Linked DNA regions of Homo sapiens: region 1 is linked to region 2. A link means that fine-mapping ties the variant in region 2 to the expression of a gene that starts in the linked region. Tissue or cell type: whole blood. Region 2 holds a variant in brackets; the other region holds the start of a gene. All regions are shown on one strand. Distances are between the middles of the regions.

What was found.
Region 1: it holds the start of TRIB2, and the variant in region 2 is fine-mapped to the expression of TRIB2 in whole blood (Lepik 2017, PIP 0.95).

What each region holds. Positions count from the first base shown.
Region 1 is chr2:12,715,146-12,718,059 of GRCh38, reverse strand. It overlaps TRIB2 (tribbles pseudokinase 2), which reads right to left and starts at 1,124. Exons shown (of 3, transcript NM_021643.4): 1 at 1-1,124. It overlaps LOC124905974 (a long non-coding RNA gene), which reads left to right and starts at 1,302. Exons shown (of 2, transcript XR_007086222.1): 1 at 1,302-2,914. RefSeq lists enhancers at 657-726, 575-1,214 and silencers at 1,167-1,226, 1,317-1,536.
Region 2 is chr2:13,035,830-13,038,743 of GRCh38, reverse strand. All of the region lies in intron 1 of LOC105373436 (a long non-coding RNA gene), which reads right to left. Among named protein-coding and RNA genes, the nearest start is that of MIR3125, 300 kb to the right of the region's middle. The variant C/T (reference allele first, on the strand shown) is at 1,460.

The DNA.
Region 1 (2,914 bases), 320 kb after region 2:
AAAGCAGTCGGCGATGTGCAGAATCGCCGCACTTTTAGTTACTCTGTGTGTGTGTCCCCGGCGTGGATCTGGATGAGTACCCGGGCTGCTAAGGTGCGGAGCTGCAGCGCCAGGGCTCCCGACGCGACCCCCAGGCCGGCTTCCGAATCGCAGACGGGGCGGAGGAGCCCGCGGTAGTTTGTGCAGTCTTCGGGGAGCTCACGGCGGCGACTCAGTCCCAACGCGTTAGAAGCCAAACAAAAAGAGAAAGGAAACAAGCACGGGTCTACCGGCTGGCGACGCACGGCAGCCAGAATCCGCGCTGCACCCCCTTTTTTTGGTGGAAAGGGTGGGGGGCGTGTAAGGGGGGGGTGCGGGAGAGGGCAGTTACCTACGTTTTAACTGTAGATGGCGTCTGAGGCTTTTCCAAGATCGCGAGCTCTCCAAAAATTAAACAAACAAACAAAAAAAAGAAAAATTGCAAGGGAGCATTTAACTTGGTGCGGTCAGCGCTGCCAACAAAAGATTGCAAAAGCTGGGCACAGAGTTGCGGCGCGGGCTGGGCGCAGGTACCGCGACAAAGCCCTGGGCTCGGCCCGCCGCGCGGAGGTCAGCACAGGCTCATGCTGTCGCCGCTCGCTCGCGCCCCAGGTCTTCCTCCGAATGCAGCCAGACGTGCAGGAGAGAACGAGGACAGATCGGCGGTCTCCGATTTCGCCGGCACGAGCTTGCGGGGGTCCTGCGGGCGCTGCAAGGGGAGCTGCGTCCCTGGCCCTTCCAACGCGCGGCGTTCCTTTGCCCCTTTCCCGCTGGAGAACTGGATCTCGTCCTGGAATAATTTGCAATCACCCCGTCTCCCCCTACCCCGAGACCAAATTGCCCGGTGGGGTTTGTTTTGGAGAAAATTGACGGCTTGTCTCCTCCTTCTTTGATTTCTTGCTTGCCCCCCCCAGAGAAAAGAGGGGACCGTGTATTTAAAAATTAAAGGGGACGGCCGACGGTGCCCGAGGCCAATCCCCGCGCTCAGCACGCCCGCATCCCCCGGCGAGGCGGTATTAATAGTTACTTACGTGGCCGGGGATCTCGGAGCGAGCGGGGCCGTGAGTGCGCGTGTGCGCGCGCGCGCCTCGCTCGCGCTCGGTCTCCCCATTCAATGTCACCGACACATTTCCACGGAGCCTCCGCCCCCCCCCCGCCGCCCCCGCGACTGGCTCAGCCCAGAGCCGGCCCCGCCCCGCCCCCGCCCGGGCCCCCCTCATTGCGCCGGGCGCCCATCAATCAGCCCCGCCGCTGCCAGTCCTCGGGCGGCTCCCCGCGCCGCTGCCATTGCAGCTCCGTGCCGGGGGCGCCAGCACCGGCCTCGCAGCTCCCTCGCCCGGCCGGGGAGGTAAACAAAGTGAAATATCCTTCCGCGGCCCGGGGCCCCGGGCGCAGCACCCTGGGTGTCGGCTGCGAGCCGGCTGCGAGCCCAGCTGCGGGCGGCTGGGCCGGGGTTACCAGCAGCGACTCCCGAGCCGTTCCCCACACGCTGCTCCCGCAGCGCCCGCTCCAGCTCTTCGTAGCTCGTTCATGTTCCTGGCGCTTTTCCCCAGAAAGCCAGGCACGCTCTGAGCATTGGGCCCCCAGGCTCAGATGTGGCCCTGAATGAGGAGCTCTGTTTTGGAAGAATGCGCTTTCATCGGTATTGCTGCCTGGAGTTTCGAGAATTCGTTTCATGGTATCTCTCCGACATCCTCCTCTCCATTTAAAAGGAAATCCATTGCTTCCTTTTAGTTGGTGTCACCGCTTGCCCCCGATCCCCACATCCTGGGCTTGTATTTCTAGTGTTTTCAGCAGAAGAGGAACTGAAGGCATCTTTTGATTCAGGTCAAATTTAATCACTAATTCTTCCCTTCCCAGTGCATTGCCTGGAGGGCCTTGGAGGCCAAGCTAGACAAAACTTTGCACCCACACCTCCAGGGAGCGCTGTTGGGTCCTATCCAGGGTGCTGGGCGTCCTGAGTCCTCTTCTGTTAGCCAGGTGAAGGCTGCAGTTTCACGCCCCACTCCACCCCCCATTTCGCCACCCCCCCCGAATTATTCGTAACTTCCTTGGGAGATTCCAGTCCGCGGGCTTGGACAGGAACACCGGAAGCAAGGGGCTTGAACTCAGGCAGAGGCTTCAAACGCCAGCCTTGATCTAAGATATCCTGGTGAATGAGAAGCGATCTAGTAGAGGACAAACTTAAAAAAAAAAATCCCAAGGAACTGAGAAAGGGGAGTTGGGACGACTCCTGGAGCCCTCTGAGCTTTTGCATGCGTGTAGTATATTTTCCACTGGAGGAGGGGACTAAATTATTGTCCACTGTAGGACACTTTCAGTAAAAGAAGGGAGCTATTTATAATTATGTCCACTTGGGACAACAGTCACTCTAATGATCAGGAGTCCTGGGAATGTGGCCAGAGATGGAGAGGACATTGACTATAAAGCTTCCACCCAGCAGCACAGAGTTAAAAGGAAGGTTAAGAAGTGGACCCGTGCCTTCCAGCACCTCTCACCATCCTACTCCCCACAAACCTGCCTAGGATTCAGTCCCAGATCCCAGCAGAATAGATCTATTTCCCTAGGCGATCACCAGGACCACTGACCGAGCAGGGTCCCCTAATCCAGTCTTACCCCAGGAAGACACTTGGCCTGTGTTAGGAACAGTCTCGAAGCAACCCCTGCTGTTGAGTCAGAAAGAGAGGTGCCTAGCCTCCTCTATGCAGTGGCCAAGAGAGCTTTGTAATAATTAGGGGTTGGGACACCTGTGTGCTAGCCCTGGCTGGGTCTCTGATTTCAAATGGAAATTGGGTGAAGACCTTGTTTTTTCTCCCTAGATCCCTGTTTCTTCATCTGTAAGATGAGAAGCATAATACCCGCCCTGCTCACCTCATGTGGTTGCTTTAGAATTATA
Region 2 (2,914 bases):
TAGCAGCTGGATTTGACCTGAGACTAAATAATGAATTTTTCTGGTAAAAGACGATCTGGCAACTGGGTCCTATTGCAAGACTTTATCAGAGTCTGCATTTTTGACAAGTGGCAACAAAGAAACAATAAGAATGTCTGACGTATGGACAAGTATAGGCAAACTTAGGGATTCTCAGAAATATTGAGGGCATTGCGCTTTGGGAAAGAGACTAGAGTTTCTGTTAATTTGGCAAGATAGAACTAGTATCATTAGAGTATTAAAGAAAATGTGATATTGATACACACTGGCAGGGTCAGGAACATGGTGGTAACATATTATTTATAGTCTTCATATTAATCCTTCAATGTATATTATGTGCCTTTTACAATTTAAGAACGAGACTCATAGAGGTTAATACATTGCCCAAAGTAGTAGGCTAGTAAGTGAAGGTGTATGCATTTAAACTCATACTTATGAAGACAAAGTCTATTATCTTTTGACTGGACTAAGGAGTCCAGGCTGTTCTATAGGATCATTAATGTTTATGGATATTGAGGTCCTTGAAAAATCATTACAATCCTATGCCTTGGGCAAAATTTCAAAAGTTCTTCCTGTTACACATATCAGCAATACCCCAAGCATTCTTTAAAAATAGATGGTTCAAAATAACTATTTTATTAGACTCATTTATTACTGTAAAGTTCTTTTAATTTAGAATTCAATTATTCCAATGTGAGACCCAATTATTCATATTCAGTCTCCCTCAGAGTATGGGAATAAATACATACATTATTTGGTGTTTCATATTTAGAAGGATTGCAAGTGTTGCTCTGAAATAACTAAAGTGAATATTGGCTGAATTTCCTTGTGACACAAATAAGAAAATTTCCTTCCTGTTCACACATGACCACATTTGCATAATGCATAGACGTCAAATATCCATTAAGCAAAAATACATAAGACATGTTTTGGTAACATTTAATACAAATGCTACTTCTTAAATGAAACTTTTTAGCCCTTTCAGAATTCTGTGTTAGCCCTTTGAGAATTCAGTGGTTTTCTTGTCTTCTTCTTATTTCTTCAACATTTCCCGATTATCATTGTCCTCACTCCAAAGAGAAGGATAACTTGGAAATGCTCTGAAATCTGGAGCTGCGGTTTTGCTACGCTCTGTGACCTCCGCATTCCAAAGCCAGCACAGTTAATAGTTCAGAAAATGTTATAGAATTGGTTTACTTAGGTTGAGTTTAAATAATTTATTTTTTATTTTATTTCATTATTATTATTATTTATATATTTTTTGAGATGGAGTCTTGCTCTGTTGCCCTGGCTGGAGTGCAATGGTGCAATCTTGGCTCACTGAAACCTCTGCCTCCCGAGTTCAAGTGATTCTCCTGCCTCTACCTCCCCGGGTAGCTGGGATTACAGGCATGTGCCACCACGCCTGGCTAATTACGTGTTTTTAGTAGAGATGGGGTTT[C/T]TCCATGTTGGTCAGTCTGGTCTCGAACTCCCAACCTCAAGTGATCCGCCCATCTTGGCCTCCCAAAGTGCCGGAATTACAGGCATGAGCCACCATACCCGGCCTAAATAATTTATTTTTTTAAAAAATGCTTTCAATATTAGGCATATTTTGATTCCTGTTTACACTGGGTAGAATTTGATAGAATTCTTATGATCGCCGACTAAAACAAAGACGAACAAGTCAGCAGCCTGTGAACTTGGAAAACTGTGAACCCTGTTTTTCTACTCTCAGCTCTAACATAATGAACGCTTCTTGAAGAACAGACTCACTGTTAGTGCTGGGGGTGTTTATTTATCCTTTTTCGCCTGTATCCCGTTTGCCTGGCTGGAGATAGCTCTTGCAGTAGGAACCTTTGTCAGGGGATGCATGCACTTTTACAAAGTGGAAAAGAATGCTCCCCATCAGTACTTTGAGTTAACTGTTTCCAACAATCTGTTTTTTTTCTGTGCTGTCAGTTATGATATATCTTTCATCATACAGCTTATGTGAAACCTCTTTGAGAAACTCTGACCTAACAATCAAATTGGACTCATTGCCCTTCAGTGTTTTCATTGTAACCAATAATGCCTTTTATCAAAGTTGTTATTAAGTTGAATTGCAGTTTCCTATTAATATGTCATCTCCCTCGTTAAGTTGTAGATTTTGGGGCAAAAGAATTGTGCTCAGATAGAGCTTAGAGAGGTTGGGATAAATACCCAAGCCTTGAATTCAGCTGACCAGAAAAAAACTTTCATGATTGACTCATTAATCAAAATTAAGCATTTTTAGTTTAGTTTAGAACAGCTTATTTAATAATCACCCTTTATACTTGTGTGGAGCTGTTTTATTCAGATTTTTAGAATGATAATTTCTTCTTTTGATGATAATCTGTTTCTACATAAATTTATCAGTTACATAGTCCACATAAAAGAGTGTGTAATTTCACTTAATAATTCCCTGTGCCTCTGCAGGATCTTAATTCTCAATTTTTTTAAGCATTATGTTTTTTCTATTTGTTCAAATGATAAACTCAAATCATCTATTTTTCATTGTGTGTTACCCTTTGGCTCCTAATCCTTTGATATACACTACGGGATCAGCCCCACAGCTTTAATCCCATGGGATTGAGCAGAACGAGGCTTTAGAAATCTAACTAACTAAACACCCTCCTGCGCATTCACACACTTGGTGGGTGGACCCCTCTCAATTTCCAGGTAATATGTGATTCTTCTCTGCCACAAGTCTGTAGTCCCACACATAACCTCAGAATTTCTACTCTATTTTCCACCTCCTGTTTTTCTCCTGTTAAAGCCAATTTAGTCTACCTACTTAAGAGACTCCAATCTCTCCTACACTTCTAAGAGCTATTCTGGAAAGTTGAGAAGTAACTTCTTCCCACATGTTTTATTCCCTTAAGCTCTCTGATGGTTAATA